Regions from separate parts of the Homo sapiens genome. Here region 2 is linked to region 1. Evidence: fine-mapped expression QTL. Tissue or cell type: whole blood. Region 1 holds a variant in brackets; the other region holds the start of a gene. All regions are shown on one strand. Distances are from middle to middle.

Evidence for each region. PIP is the estimated chance that this variant, and not a neighbour inherited with it, causes the effect.
Region 2: ADCY9 starts here. The variant in region 1 is fine-mapped to the expression of ADCY9 in whole blood (TOPMed, PIP 0.95).

Annotation. Positions count from the first base shown.
Region 1 is chr16:3,987,986-3,996,163 of GRCh38, forward strand. ADCY9 (adenylate cyclase 9) reads right to left here. Exons shown (of 11, transcript NM_001116.4): 4 at 5,421-5,525; 5 at 4,161-4,378; 6 at 1,009-1,111. It overlaps LOC124903633 (a long non-coding RNA gene), which reads left to right and starts at 4,145. Exons shown (of 2, transcript XR_007064956.1): 1 at 4,145-4,923; 2 at 5,057-6,339. The variant A/C (reference allele first, on the strand shown) is at 5,009.
Region 2 is chr16:4,113,217-4,121,394 of GRCh38, forward strand. It overlaps ADCY9 (adenylate cyclase 9), which reads right to left and starts at 3,226. Exons shown (of 11, transcript NM_001116.4): 1 at 2,474-3,226; 2 at 534-2,269. The coding sequence starts at 2,226. RefSeq lists silencers at 160-370, 3,364-3,433.

The DNA of each region.
Region 1 (8,178 bases):
GTGAGGAGGGGCTGGAGGAGAGAGATGGGTGTTGGGACTGTGCTGGAGGCTGTAAGGAGGGGCTGGAGGAGAGAGACGGGGGTCCTACCTCACAGAGCTGAGCATCTAGGGAGGGAGGAACACGAATCCAGAACCACACACGGAAAGATTCCAAAATGGGGCACACACGGAGAAGGAAGTGTATGAAGGGAAGTACAATCCAGTCTGCAGTCGGGGAGAGCTTCTTGGAGGAAGTGGGATTGGGTGATGGGCTGAGAAGTCAAGTACAAGGGGTTAAGGCGGTGGGGGCGGGAGAGGGAACATGGAGCCGGAGTTAGAGAGAGAGGTGAAGGCCTCCTGGGCCCTTCTCAGGGGAAGAAAGCAGGGAGGGCAACAGAGAAGAGTCTCACCCAAGACTCCAGGACAGGTGGGACGGGGGCTCTTCCAGGGCAGGTCGGTGGGGAGTTCCCTTCCAGGGCAGGTGGGGGGTTCCCTTCCAGGGCAGGTGTGGGGGATTCCCTTCCAGGGCAGGTGTGGGGGGTTCCCTTCCAGGGCAGGTGTCGGGGTTCCTTTCCAGGGCAGGTGGGGAGGGGTTCCTTTCCAGGGCAGGTGGGGGACCCCTTCCATGGCAGGTGGGGGGGGTTCCTTTACCAGGGCAGGTGTGGGGGCCCCTTCCAAGGCAGGTGGGGGGGTTTCCTTCCAGGGCAGGTTGGGGGTTTCCTTTCAGGACAGGTTGTGGTGGGGGGGCCCCTTCCAAGGCTGGGGATAGCCTGGAGATGCCACGGCAGAGGAAAGGGGCTAGTAATGGCGAGGCTGCGCTTTAAGACAAAGGACTAAAGAAAGGGTTTTTTTCCTCCTTTGCAAAGAGACATTTCATGTACAGTTGCCACTTAGGGTTTACAGAGTGTGGGAAATCAATGTTCGCCTTCGTGTTCCCATCCCTTGGTAAAGCACAAAACTAACAGTGAATGACCATGTGAGAACAACAAACACATTCTTTAGTAAAAGCGCAAGGAGAAATGAACGCACCTCTTCCTGATAGCTGGTCCTGTAGGATCGCTCCAGCTCCTGATCCAGGAAGTTCAGGCTGAACTGATTAATGGGCGGCTTAAAAAAGTAATCTTTCATCAGGCTAGAAGACACAACAAATGCAGTCGATCAATACCCAGCACCATAACTGTGCCAATGTTTTCAGATCATAATTAGCTACCAAAACGCTGCTCATTAGGTATATTACAACAGCTGCGTCTAAAAGCGCCTGTGGAACAGACGCCACTCAGCTGCCCCTTGTTAAAACAGATCTGTGGAAAGTCCTTCGCACCTCAAAGCATAATCATATTTTGTGTTTCACCTTCGTTAAAGAATGACCATCCACCATGATTATAGCACACATCATCAGAACCTTGGTTTTTTGGGGTTTTTTTTTTTTGAGGCAAGGTCTCACTCTGTCGCCCAGGCTGGAGTGCAATGGCGCAGCGATCTTGGCTCACTGCAATCTCCGCCTCCCAGGTTCAAGCAATTCTCCTGCCTCAGCCTCCTGAGTAGCTGGGATTACAGGCGCCTGCCACCGCACCCAGCTAATTTTTGTATTTTTTAGCAGACGCGGGGTTTCACCATGTTGGTCAGGCTGGTCTCGAACTCCTGGGCTCAAGAGATCCACCCATCTCGGCCTCCCAAAGTGCTGGGATGACAGCGTGAGCTGCTGAGGCTTGTTTTTGAAAACACATTCCTAATGTCTAGGATTAGGAGAAGATGAAGGCAGCTTTTCTGTTCTTTGAAACAATCTTTTGTGAAGAACACGCAGATCACTGTGCTGAGAGTACTTACATGGATTTGGAGGCTTCAAACGAAAACATAATTCAGAACCGGCGGTCCTGTCATTCAGAGCACTGACAGTAATTGCCACCGTAAAAGCTAACAGGTTGTTATCACAAAATTGTGTTTATAGTTAGCGTAATTTTGGTGCTATTGTCACATATGCAGATTGCATGTGAAACCTGCAGAATGATAAAGCTCAGTGATTTTAATAGCAGGGAAATCAACCCCGCTTTCCATGACTCTTTCATTCATTTATGAATTGCCAGCAAATAGTAATATCCTTTCTATACTGCAGAAAATTACTAGAAACTAAGGGAACGTTAACATGATTTCAGAAAGCAAATATAGCTGTGTTAGCCTCTCTCCCTCATACAGTGACTATCAGAAGTAAATTAGACGAGGCTGGGCGCGGTGGCTCATCCTTGTAATCCCCAGACCTTTGGGAGGCCGAGGCAAGCGGATCACCTGAGGTCAGGAGCTCGGGACCAGCCTGGCCAACATGGTGAACCCCCGTTTCTACAAAAAATACAAAAATTAGCCAGGCCTGGTGGCAGGTGCCTGTAATCCCAGCTACTCGGGTGGCTAAGGCAGGAGAATCACTTGAACCTGGGAGATGGAGGTTGCAATGAGCCAAGATGGCGCCACTGCATTACAGCCTGGGTGACACAGCAAGACTATGTCTCAAAAAAAAAAAAAAAGAGTAAATCAGGTGAAATATGTCAAGTGCCTCATGTGCCCCCCACACAAAGTACGGCTCATCACGTGTGTTCCTTCCTGTCCTTGCAGCACGGCGGACACTCTCCTTTCTGTGACAGGTATCCAGTAACTTCCAACATTCTCAGACTCAGAAGAGAAATAATTCTGTCCCAGGACACTGACCCTCTCTCCTCCCCTGACTCAGGGAGTGTGGACTGAGGGAAGAGCAACCACGCAGCTGCAGAGAGGATGTGCACAAGGCCACATTTTAGCAGTCAAGTGGCAGAAGCGACACTGCTATTAGCTGTGCTGCTCCATTTATTTCTTATTTGTTTTTTGAGATGGAGACTCGCTCTGTTGCCCAGGCTGGAGTTGCAGTGCTGCGATCTCAGCTCATTGCAGCCTCTGCCTCCTGGGTTCAAGCGATTCTCCTACCTCAGCCTCCTGAGTAGCTGGGATGACAGGCACCCGCCACCACGCCCAGCTAATTTTTGTACTTTTAGTAGAGACGGGGTTTCACCTTGTTGGCCAGGCTGGTCTTGAACCCCTGACTTCAGGTGATCTACCTGCCTCGGCCTCCCAAAGTGTTGGGATTATAGGCGTGAGCCACAGCGCCTGGCTGAAAATCACCCTTTGAGGCATTATAGTGAAGACAGAGGCAAGAATCATCAATGAATGTTAAATCTAGGGAATTCTGATGGGGAATGAAATATGTACAAGATCTTCAAGTATTTTCTCACAGATTGCTTATTAGTCATAAGAGGAATATAATAACCCTAGATGAGACAACCCGGCACCACCTTGCCTAATTAATCAAAATTAGTATCACTAATGAGGAACAGACGGGCACTGCGTGTCCCTGGAGAGGACACCCTGAGGAGGACACGGCATCCCTTCTGCAGTCTCTGCCTGGCCAGAGGGAGAGCCTGAATCTAACCAATCCAACTTCAGGAATATTTGATAAAAGGACTGGACCTGTATTTTTCAAAAATGTTACCATTAGGCCAGGCACAGGCTCACACCTGTAATCCCAGCACTTTAGGAGGCCGAGGCGGGCAGATCACCTGAGGCCAAGAGTTCGAGACCCGCCTGGCCAACATGTTAAAAACCCATCTCTACTAAAAACACAAAAATTAGCTGGGCATGGTTGTGTATGCCTGTAGTCCCAGCTACTTGAGAGACCTAGGCAGGAGAATTACTTGAACCTGGGAGGTGGAGGTTGCAGTGAGCCGAGATTGAGCCACTGCACTCCAGCCTGGGCAACACAGCAAGACCTAGTCCTTATAAAAAAAAAAAAAAAAAAAAAAAAAGCCAGGCGTGGTGGCTCACGCCTATAATCCCAGCACTCTGGGAGGGTGGGGTAGGTGGATCACCCGAGGTCAGGAGTATGGAGACCAGCCTGGCCAACATGATGAAACTCCATCTCTACTAAAAATACAAAACCTAGCCAGGCATGGTGGTGGGTGCCAGTAACCCCAGCTACTTGGGAGGCTGAGGCAGGAGCATCGTTTGAACCTGGGAGATAGAGGCTGCAGTGAGCCAAGATCGCGCCACTGCACTGCAGCCTGGATGACAGAGCGAGACTCAGTCTTAAAGAAAAGAAAAGAAAAAGGCAGAGAGGCTTCTGCCTGCAACCTTTGCTTTTTCCCAGACAGCCCCAGTCGTACCTGTCTTCTTTGATAACGTCCACAAAGTGGGCGTCCGTTTTCTCCCGGATGTTCTTGAACCTCAGCGGAAGGAGAGCCGACTGGTCCAGGCTCACCCCTGCCCACCTTCCCTTCTCCTGCAAGATCTCACACAGAGAAGTCTGACTGTTGGTGAGCTTCTCCTCTTGGGGAGGGCTGAGGAGCCCGTTCTGAGTTTTGGGATTAGGTCCTCCAGAAGCCTGCCTCGAGACAAAGAGGACGCAGACACGGGAAGTGAAGTGGCACCGGGCACTGGGCACACACGCCTGTCCCACCCCGACCTCCGCTGCGGGGCGCTGCTGCACTGGGCGTGGGACTTTCTGACCTGCGAGGAACCCCCACCCCCCTGCGCCTACAGACCTGCTCCAATCCCAGCCCTGACTGCCCGTCTGCTCCTTCCTGTTACCCAACAGTGCCCAGTGGTAACGCTGGGTGTTCAGGCTGCCAGGACATTGAGACATGGGAAGAGTCGGTGCGGAGGTGGAGGGGAAGGGAGGAAAGTGAGGAGCCGAGGCCCCCAGAGTCTGCTTAGGCCAGAACCACGGTTCTGGGAGCAGGGTGCATGGGTCGGGGGTCCAGGAGAAGTATGACGAGGGGTCCAGGGCTGTCAGGGCACAGGCAAGGTGGATGGAAACGGGCTCGTGTCGTGGGTGTCCCCCGTGGCTGTGGGAAGGCATGGGATGACCTGCACCTGCAATCCTTTGGCAGATGGAGAGCAGATGGAGGACGAGAGCCCGCGCCCCAGGTGAGTCGCCTGCATGAGCCCCCGCCGACAGGCTCTCGCGGGTGGGCTGAGTCCTGGCCCTGGTGTCCAAGTCTGGTTTTCCTGA[A/C]AGCCTTCCTGCCACCGGCCCTAACTCCCAACCTCTCTCTTCACCCAGCCTTTCTCGCCGTGAAGACCCCCTCTTGTCTCTGCCCGTCTATATTCTCTCATAAACTGAGTCCAGCTTCCAGTACCACAAATCCCCTCCCGGCACTCGAATCCACGCATTTTAAACCCTTATTGGCCTTTAAAGGAATCCCGCCCAGCTCAGCCCCTGAGCGCTGGTTTCCACGTGGGTTGCTGCTGACCCTCCCTCGAGCTCCCTGCCGGTCTCTTCAACACCCGGAGGACCCGCGGGTGCGGAGTGCTGTTACCCAAGAGGAGTTACTCTCAGAACTAAGAAGTCGACAAGACAGGAATGTCACCTTGGGTGGATGCGCCAGGAGAGGAACTGACAGGAACAACAGCCATGAGCTTGTTACCTTGGTGCTGTTTTTATGCTCGTCTTGGCAGCCGTTTTGAGGTGCTCCTCCCTCGGCGCCGGCTTCAGATTTGGGAGCAAATGTGATTCCGCACGAAGGGCAGGTCTAGAAGAAAAACACAGACTGTGGGGACACACCCAGAAACCGCGACTGCCACCCTGAATTCAGGCAGGTCCGCTGTTGCCATCTGCCGTCACGCAGCATGGTGGTGAGCAAGGGGAAGGCACACAGAACCGCTCGGGGATGAGCTGAAAGCCAACGGGCAAAGTGACAGTGGAAACACACAGAAACCCGGGCACGAACGCAACAGGACCCAAAAATGGAACCGGGAATGTTCACTGACTGAACAATGGATCAACAAACTGTGGTCTATTCGAACAATGGGATATTACTCAGCCACGAAAAAGACGGAAGCACTGACGCCTGCCACAGCATGGTGAACCTCGAAAACATTATGCTCGGGGAGGGAAGCCAGACACAGCACAGATATTACGTGATCCCGTCTATGTGAAATATTCAGAAAAGGTGAATCCTTGGAGGGAGAAGGCAGATTCCTGGCTGCCAGGCGGGACCGGGGGCAGGAAGGGGGAGTGGCTGCTAAGGGGCGTGGGGTTTGCTACGATTCGAATGTTTGTGCCCCCTCAAAAGTCAGACGCTGAAATCCTAATTCCCAAGGGGATGGCATTGGGGGGCAAAGCCTTGGGAGGTAATTAGGTCATGGGGGACAAGCCTTCAAAATAGGATTAGTGCCCTCATAAAAGAGGCCCCAGAGGAATCCCTCGTCCCTTCGCCCTGGGAGAAGGCACCATCTGTGAAGCAGGAACGGGTCCTCACTGGACACTGAATCTTCCGGGACCTTGATCTCGGACTTCCCAGCCTCCAGAACCCTGAGAAATACATTTCTGTTGTTTAAAAGCCACCTGGTTTGTGGTATTTCAACAGGGTTTCTCTTTGGGATGATAAAAATGTTCTGAAATTGATCACGGTGATGGTTGCACAACCTTGCTAAATATACTAAAAACCACTGAACTGTACACTTTAAAAAGATCGATTTTTAAATATTTTTTGAGATGGAGTTTCACTCTTGTCACCCAGGCTGGAGTACAGTGTCACGATCTTGGCTCACTGCAACGTCCACCTCCTGGGTTCAAGCGATTCTCCTGCCTCAGCCTCCTGAGTAGCTGCGATTACAGGTGCCTGCCACCACGCCCGGCTACTTGTTTTGTGTTTTTAGTAGAAACGGGGTTTCGCCATGTTGGCCAGGCTGGTCTTGAACTCCTGACCTCAGGTGATCCACCCGTCTTGGCCTCCCAAAGTGCTGGGATTACAAGCATGAGCCACTGTGCCTGGCCAAAAAGATCGATTTTATAGTATGTGAATTATATCTCAACAAAGCTGTTATTAAGTAAAGAAACTGGCCACCAACTATGCGAGGACACAAATCCAAGGTTCTTAAGCTCCGTGTGATGGTGAGCTAGTCTCATAAGATGGGCTGAATAATCAAAGGTACACGATTTCCAGATCTAGGCGTACTTAAAAGTTTATAGGAATTAATGGACCTAGAAAAGAGAAGGCAAGATTTAATACAGGTACCCTAAAAAGAGCAAAGCCTTTATTTCTCATAAACTAGGATTCAAACCCTAGTCAAGTACTTACTAGTTTGGAGACTCTGTTCAAATCACTTTACCTCAGTTCCCTCATCTATAAACAAAGAGTGAAGATATGTTGCTAAGAATTAAATGAAATTGGCTGGGTGTGGCGGCTGTAATCCCAGCACTTTGGGAAGCTGGGGTGGGAGGATGGCTTGAGTCCAGGAATTTGAGGCCAGCCTGGGCAACATGGCAAAACCCTGCCTCAACAAAAAGCATAAAAATTAGCCTGGCCTGGTGGCATGTGCCTGTAGTCCCAGCTACTTGTGGGGCTGAGGTGGGAGGGCTGCTTGAGTCTGGGAGGTCAAGGCCGCAGTGAGCTTTGATGGTGCCACTGCACTCCAGCCTGGGGCAAAAGAGAAAGACCCTGTCTTAAAAAAATAATAATTAAATGAAATAAGTATATATATAGCCTAGCACAGTTCCTGGCATACAGTATACCCGTAATAAACTTATTATTATTATTAATGTGACCAGGTAACCTAGGAACCATCTAAGAAAGCAACTAACAGCTTCCAATGAAGAAGACAAACCGTGGCAAGAAATATATTTTTTTTTTTTTTTGGACTCAAAAGCAATTTCCTTGCAGCAAGAAGTGTAAAACATTGAAATAAATTATGGGAGGCCAGATATTATTTTGGAAATTTAAAGTAAGTGTCACTACCTAAGGGCAAAGATATGACCCAGGTTGTATTTAAAGTTAGACTGCAGACCTGTACTATATTAAATAAAAGAAACAAAGATTCTACAGGGTTGTATAGTTTGGGAATCTGATGTAACATACAAGCTAAATTTGAACATTTGTATGCATTCAAAAAATGAAAATATACATGCCAAAACAGCTAGCGAAATCATTAATTAACATATCTGAGCAAATAATGGCATCTAGATAACATTTGCTTACAGCTCTTTAAAAACTGACATTATCAACAGAGGTAAAATGTTCTAGTTATCAATAACATACAGTGAGTCTATTTGAAAGCACCTCTTGGTATTGACTGGCAGAGTTAAACTTCTAAACATTTTGCTGGTGTGCTGGCTCACACCTGTAATCCCAGAACTTTGGGAGGCCGAAGCAGGAGGACTGCTTAGGGCCAGGAGTTCAAGAC
Region 2 (8,178 bases), 130 kb after region 1:
GTAAGTAACTCCGTCTAATTCTCCAGAGACCTGCAGGACTGCGCCGACTTCCTATCCCTATTTTGAGGATAAGCAAAGTGAGGCCTAGAGAGGAGAAAGATTTTATTCTCCACGTTTTCGCAAAAAGGGCAGAGAGAAACATTTGGATGGGACTTCAGGGTGACCAAATGAATGCAAAGGCAATTTCCTTAAGTGCTAAACAGTGCTGAATGCTGAAGGGCTCCATACCCTTACATTCACCGGACGTGCCCCCACATTTCAGCCAACCAGTGGTTATGCACGTTCAAAGTTCTCCTTCCTTCTAAAGGTCGCGTCTAGGTCATCTCTGCACAGCGTCCCTTTCTGCAGTGTGAACAGATCTGTGATATTTGACCCGCTGAAAGAAAAGTCACACTGACCCTGAGATCCCCCCATGGTAAGGCATTCTGAGATACCTGAGCTGTCTGCAGACACTGAGGCTGGAAGCTTTTTTTTTTAATTTAATACAATCAGGATCAGGGAGGGGGGATGCCGAGGTAAAGCAGTGCACATACCTTTCAACTGGTCAGCAACCACGCTCTGGCCCAGCCGTTCAATAACTTTCCCATCTTCCATTTCGTACCGGTCATCTAAGTATTTTGCGGTGGCCTCAGAAATGTGAACTTTGCCGGCCACTCCCAGCTGCTCCATGAGATTGGCCAGGTTCACATCGTTGGACCACACGTCAAATTTAAACCTCCTCATGCCCAGGATGCCGCAAAGGACGGTGCCCGTGTGCACCCCGACTCTCATGTTCACCATCTCCTTCTTCTCCTGGCAGAACTGCTCGATGGCCTTGATCATGCCCAGGCCCATCTCGATGCAGCAGTAGGCATGGTCGGCCCGGGGCTCGGGACAGCCCGCCACGCAGTAGTAACAGTCTCCCAGGGTGCTGATTTTCTCACACTTGGTCTCCTCACACAGGCGGTCGAAGCGACCGAACAGATCGTTCAGGAGACCCACCAGGGCGTGGGCAGACTTGTTGGCACTCATCTTGGTGAAGCCCACGATATCTGCAAATAAAATACTGACTTCTTCGATCTGCTGCATCTTAAAAGGGCGGAAGGCTATAGGAGCTTTTTGGATGGAAGACTTTTTCTTCCTGTTCTTGGGGCTCGAGGTGGCATGCCTCTTGACAGAATTCTCACTCTCCTCATCTCCCTGCTTCATTAAGTCATCGGCTATGATTCTTGGCATCACGGAATGAATCATCCTCTCTTTGAGGGCTTTTTCCACTTCCAGGTCCTTCCCGTGCATAATGGATTGCCCCACCTTGAGGAAGGTGCTCCTGGACCTCACCTGGGACATGACGAACAGGTGGACCCCGATGGCGTGGATGCAGCCGTGGAGCAGCCCCCTGCTCAGCAGCTCCCAGTGCAGGGCCCCGGCTCCGGGCGAGGGGAAGCAGGCTTCATCCCGGAAATGGTAGCCAAAGGTCTCGAAAAGGACAGAGTAGGCCACCCCCAGACACAAACTCAGGTACAAAGGTAAGTGCATGACGGTATAGAGCAAAAAGAGCACTTCGATGCACATGGAGAAGCTCCCCACTTGAGATAAGCAAGTATCTGTGGGCCGGGCTGTGGCCGTAAGGTTGGAGCTGTCGCCGCGTCCTGAGACAGGCGTCAAGACCTGGAACTGCGCAGCCAGGGTCAGGGCGAACACCAGCAGGGTGAGAGCCAGCGAGGTCCACGCGTAATGCCGGGCGTACAGCTTGGTGAAGGTAAACAGAAAGAAGCCCACACACACCAGGAGGAAGCACAGCGCGGGGGCGACCATGACGATCAGTCTGGATCTCATGTGGACCGCAAAATAGATGCTCCACAGAAGGCAGGCGAAGCCGATGTAGAAGAGCGCATACCGGAACCGGCGCTGGGTCTGCGGGAAGCAGCGCTCCAGGCAGGCCTCCTCCAGGTTCACCGAGTCGAACTTGGGGTCCCACCAGCGGCTGGAGGCCCTCTCGAACAGCTGGGGCAGCTTCTTCTGCCTGCGCAGCCGGCCTCCGCCGCCCACTCGCCGGGGGACGCCCCCGGAGTCCCCAGAGCTGCTGCAGCTAGAGGAGATGCTGTATTTGCAGTGCTTGGGGTGGCTGTTGGAGGACAGCTGCTTGGGGTTGATCTTGACGCGCACGCTGTTGCTGTCCCCGCTGGAGTCGCAGCTCACCTCGGTGCTGTGGTGATGCAGCAGCTGCTGGTGGGGTGGGGAAGCCATGTTGTCGAGTCCCGGGGCCTGCCCCGGCCGGGGTCACCAGTACCTGCCAGCAAAACGGGGAGAGTTAGCGGCGCTCCCACCTAGGCATGCACGCCTAGAGGCCCGGGACCTGCTCCTGTCCTAAGGGGCGGCTCCAGCACGCGACCTGGACAGGCACCATCTGTTCCTGTGGTTCCCGGCTCAGCGGTGCTCCCACCGCCCCCACCGCCCCCACCTTCGAGGCGCACGAGAACCGCTCGGGACGGACCTAGAACGCCCGGGGGTCCCCGCCGCGTGGCCGCCGTGGCTCCGGGACCGCTTTGCTCGCTCGCCTTCCGCGCCTCTCGCCCCGAGGGTGGCCTCCGCGCCGCGCGGCTTCTCCTCCTCGCGCGCTCGCCTCCTCCAGCTGCGGCTCCGGAGGGAAGTTCAGACCTTGAGCGCTCCCAGCCCCGCGAGCCGCCTGCGCACAAACAACTCCGCTGGCGGCGCGGAGCCCTCCATCCTGCAGGAGCCGCGCTCCGATGCGTCAAAGGCGGCGCGCGGCCGGCCCCGGGCCCGGACCCCGACCCGGAGCAGCGAGCTTCGGCGGGCGCCCCCGGCTCGCGCTCCCCGGCCGCCCCCCGCGCTCCGGGCCGGCCCTGCCCGCGGCGGCGGGCGCTGGGGGTGGGGGCGCCCCGGGCTGCGAGTGCGCGGAGCCCGTCGGCGCGGCCCGTCTAGTGGGGCCTGCTTCCCCCCGAGTGCGCCGCCGCTCCCGCCGCGGCCGCAGCTGTCCCGGGACCGAGCGCGTGGAACCACGGACGCGGGCCCCTCGCCGGGCGGCGGTGCAGACGCTGCCGCAGAGCCGGGCTCCCGCGACGCCGGCCGGGACGCCCGCCCGCCCGCGCCCACGCCGGGGGCCGCCTCCCCGAGCTAGAGATGCGGCCGCCGCCGCGCCCGCCGCCGTGTCCCCCGCGGCCGCTGCCTCATGTCGGAAGAGCTGCCGCCGCCACCATCTCCGGCCCCTGCCCCGCCCGCTGTCACTGACAGACGCGCGCCCGCGCCGCCCCTCGCCCAGCCGCAGCGCGCACGCGCGGCCCGCGCTCGCCGCCACCGCCTCCTGGCCCCGGACACGCGCACGGGCCGCGCGCCGCCCCGCCTTGGTGCGCGCGCTGGGCTGGGGCTGCGGGGCGGGGCGGGGCGGGGCGGGGCGCGCGCTCGGCTCCGCCCCCCGCCCCGGGCGGCGCCGCTTCTAGGCGGCGGGCTGTGGCCGCTGTCCGCGCTCCGGGCGCTGTGGGCCCGCCCTCCCTCGGCGTCCCAGAGGCCGCGCGCCGCCCGGGGTCCCGACCCTGCGGAGAGACCTGAAGGCGCCTGCCGTGGAAGAAGCCGCTGGCCGCAACGTTTGGGAAATCAAAATGTTGCCTTCCCACTCGGCACGCCTTTGGGATAAATCGAAGTTTCCAACCGTTGGATTTCCCTCCCGGGAGGCTCCCCTTGCTCTGTAAGCAATGAATGCGGGCCCCGGGGCACTCGGCCTGCCCTGGACCTGCTCACGGGGCGACCTTCACGGGCCTAGCCTCCAAAGCTGGGCCCACCGACGACCACGTTCCCCCGCCCCAGGGGTAGTTTACCTTGCTGTCCTTGAGCCCTTCTCCCCCTCCTCATGAACTACTGCTTTTCCTTTTACACAAATGAGACTTTCAAAGGAGTCCGCGTCCCATAATGGCAGTTGTGCATTGGCCTCCATAAACATTGCCACGTGTAAATAAAATCCTATTCTCTCTAGCATGCAGATCCCGACCCCTTCTCCCCACACTCCACAGTGCCTCCTGCCAGTCACGGGGCTCTCTTCCATCCCCTCCCTCGCCTCCCAGGCCCAGCGCCGGGGCCCACACCAGGTCTCACTGTTGAATTAGAAAATAAAAGTAAAATGTGATCTGTCCATGCAATGGAATATTATTCGGCTACAAAAAGGAATGGAGCACCGATGCATGCTGCAGTGTGGAGGAACCCGGGAAACGTTATGCTAGTGAAAGAAGCCAAACAAAAAAGGCCACATAGCGTATGATTCCATCCAGATGAAATGTCTCGAATTGGCAAATCCGTAGAGGCGACACAGATTGGAGGTTGCCAGGTGCTAGGGGAGGAAGATAAGCAGCTTGGGGTTTCGTTTTAGGATGATGAAAAAGTCTAGAAATGATCCAACAGGATGAATCTACATACTGCCCTTGAATCATACACTTTAAAGTGGTTTAGGCCGGGAGCGGTGGCTCACGCCTGTAATCCCAGCACTTTGGGAGGCCGAGGTGGGCGGATCACCTGAGGTCGGGAGTTCGAGACCAGCCTGACCAACACGGAGAAACCCCATCTCTACTAAAAATACAAAAATTAGCCGGACGTGGTGGCACATGCCTGTAATCCCAGCTACTCGAGAGGCCGAGGCAGGAGAATTGCTTGAACCCGGGAGGCGGAGGTTGTGGTGAGCTGAGTTCGCACCATTACACTCCAGCCTGGGCAACAAGAGTGAAACTCCATCTCAAAAAATAATAATAAAATAAAATAAAGTGGTTTAAATGGTAAATGTTATGTTGAGTGTATTTTACCACAATAAAGGAGGAAAAAACTAAAAGCAACATATTGTGGTGGTATTCCTGCAGAAGTGTGTAATCTCAATCCAATCGCAAGAAAACACCAGACAAACCCAGATTGAGACCTGTTCTACAAAGTGATTAACCAGTACCCATCAAAAGTGTCCTTGGACACTTTGGGTCTTGAAAGACAAAGACTGAGAAACTGTCACAATCTAGGAATCGTCCCTAAGGGGATAGATACAACAACTAAATGGAACATGGGATGCTGGTTGGGAACATGGAACAGGAAAGGACAGTAGCAGGAGAGCGGGCAAAATTCACATAAGATCTGCAATTTCCTGGTTCTGATCCTCTTACTATGGTTAGGTAAGACGTTAACATTTTTAGGGGAAGCTGGGCCCTGTGCAGTGGCTCACACCTGTAATCCCAGCACTTTGGGAGGCTGAGGCAGACAGACCACCTGAGGTTAGGAGTTCAAGACCAGCCTGGCCAGCATGGTGAAACCCCCGTCTCTACTAAAAATACAGAAATTAGTTGGGCATGGTGGTGTGCGCCTGTAATCCCAGCTACTCAGGAGGCTGAGGCACAAGAATCACTTGAATCCAGGAGACGGAGTTTGCAGTGAACCGAGATCATGCCACTGCACTCCAGCCTGGGCAACAGAGCAGGACTCCATCTTGGGGGAAAAAAAATTAGGGGAAGCTGGATGTAGGATACAGGGAAACTCGCTAGTATTTCTGCAACTCTTCAAGTCTAAAACTATTTCAAAATAAGTTTATCTAAAAATTTAAAAAATAAACCTTTAATGAACATCAATTCTATGCCAGGCACTCTCACATACGAGGTTCAGAAACGCATGGTGTGTCACATGCATTCGCTTAGTAAATGGGATAACAATAGTGAACTAACATTGACCGAACACGTCATAAATGCCAGAAACTACTGGACATTTTCACCTGTGACACATTTGGTCATTGCCACAACCCTCTGAGGTAGATACTATTGTCCCTTGTTTAGAGAGGTGAAACCCAGGATTGAAGAGAAACGCACCCTAGGTCTCCCACTAAGGGTGATGAGTTCAGATGGAAAACCAGGTCTCAGAATTCTGAGGCCATGACGCCTTGTGTGACCCTGGCACTACCCTCTGCAAGCCTCACGATGGCCCAGCACAGACTGTACCTGTCTCATCCATCAGCCCAACTGGATGGGAGGCCCTCAGAGCCAGGACTCACAGCTTCCGTCTTCCCTTGCTGGCTGCAACGCTGTGCTCCCTGCTTCCTGGTTTCCTGAAACGATCTGAAAGCTTGCCTGTCTGCACTTCTTTCCTCCTCCCTAAATCATTTGTGGTAACTTATGTGTTTGTAAGTTAGTCACGTCGGATTTTTAGACACAAGTAATGGTCATACTCACCTCCCTACTTCTCTGGAAGCAATTCGGCCACATTGCCTGCTGTGGAAACCTATAAGCTGACAAGCCTCCCCAGTCTCCAGGTCAGGGAGTGAATCATGCCATCAACCCCGGGGGACTGGGGCTGTGGTGCCAGCACTGTGTGTCAGGCCCTGGAGGTACAAGGATATGCCATCCATATCTTTTCTTTTCTTTTCTTTTTTTTTTTTTTTGAGACGGAGTCTCGCTTTGTCACCCAGACTAGAGTGCAATGGTGCGATCTCGGATCACTGCAACCTTTGCCTCCCGGGGTTCAAGCAATTCTCCTACCTCAGCCTCCAGTGGAGCTGGGATTACCACCATGCCCAGCTGATTTTTGTATTTTTAGTAGAGACAGGGTTTCACCATATTGGCCAGGCTGGTCTCGAACTCCTGACCTCATGATTCACATGCCTTGGCCTCCCAAAAGTGCTGGGATTACAGGCGTGAGCCACCGTGCCCAGCCGCCATCTGTTTCTTTAAGGGGCTTAGGAACGATGTCCAGGGGAGGGGTTGGGTTAAGAAGATGGGATCAATTAGGCTTTCTGAAGGATTGGATGTGAAGGAGAGTTCTATAAAGGAGGTTAACCATCTTCTCATAATGCCAAGACCCAAAGGGAAGTCACTGGAGGGTTCTGGGTTCTTCTTGACCTCCCAGAAGCATAAAGGTACCCGATTCACAGAAGATACGGGGCAGATGCAATAGCTTTCTTCAAACATCCAATCCAGGGTGCTGCCAAATCCACAGAGAGTTTCTTTTTTCCATCTGTGATGTGTACAGAACTCCCACCTGGACACAGTGGGAATCAGAATGTGTCCATGAAAACTCTGCAAAAGCTTGCAGAATGCCTTGCCTGCCTCAGTGTCTCCTCCTCACCCTCCCTCACATGCAAATTCACATGATGGGTGAGGACCTTGGCTCCAGGATATCAGAGGTCAGACTGGGTGGCAACCATGACAGGCTTTGAGATAAGTTGCATAATGATTGAGTTGTAGCCATTCTCATCACACCGGCCCCTGAGGACTCGGCAGTGCCTACGTGATTTCATTTGTCAGGTGGACCACAATCTTGGAGAACCATCTGCTGGAAGATGGGATTCCCTGCTATGGCCTGATCATGCGTCCAAAACTGCAGTTACAAGCTTTGAGTCTTTTTCTCTTTCAACTGATGAGGGTGAGTTTGTAGGAACGTACCTGCTTTTTTTTTTTTTTTTTTTTTTTTTTTTTTGAGATGGAGTCTCACTCTGTCACCCAGGCTAGAGTGTAGTAGCATGATCTCAGCTCACTGCAACTTCCATTTCCCAGGTTCAGGCAATTGTCCTGCCTCAGCCTCCCAAGTAGCTGAGACTATGAGCATATGCCACCACACCCAGCTAATTTTTGTATTTTTAGTAGAGGCAGGGTTTCACCATGTTGGCCAGGCTGGTCTTGAACTCCTGACCTCAAGTGATCCTCCTGCCTCGGCCTCCCAAAGTGCTGGGATTATAGATGTGAGCCACACGCTTGGCCTTTACCCACATTTTTTCTCTACCATTGACTGCTGTTCACAAGCCTCCAGCAGCTACCTTCACATTGACAGGAAGATCAGGCGTCTCAGCAAAGCAAAAGATCCTTTGGAGAAGATCACCAAAATACCTGCAGGTGCCTCCATAACCAGGTGTATTCCATCTAGCCACATCCATAGATTCTACATCCAGCCATGCCCAGTTTAGAGGCCAATACAAATTCATTGAATGACTGCATATGGGAGTTATATTAATATATTTTTATTTTTTTTTAATGGGTTCAACCAGGAGGCGGAGCTTGCAATGAGCCGAGATCTCGCCACTGCACTCCAGCCTGGGCGACAGAGACTCCACCTCAAAAAAAAAAAAAAAAAAAGGTTTCAAGAAATTCTCCTGCCTCAGTCTCCAAGTAGCTGGGAATATAGGCATGCGCCCACACACCCAGCTAATTTTTGTATTTTTAGTAGAGACAAGGT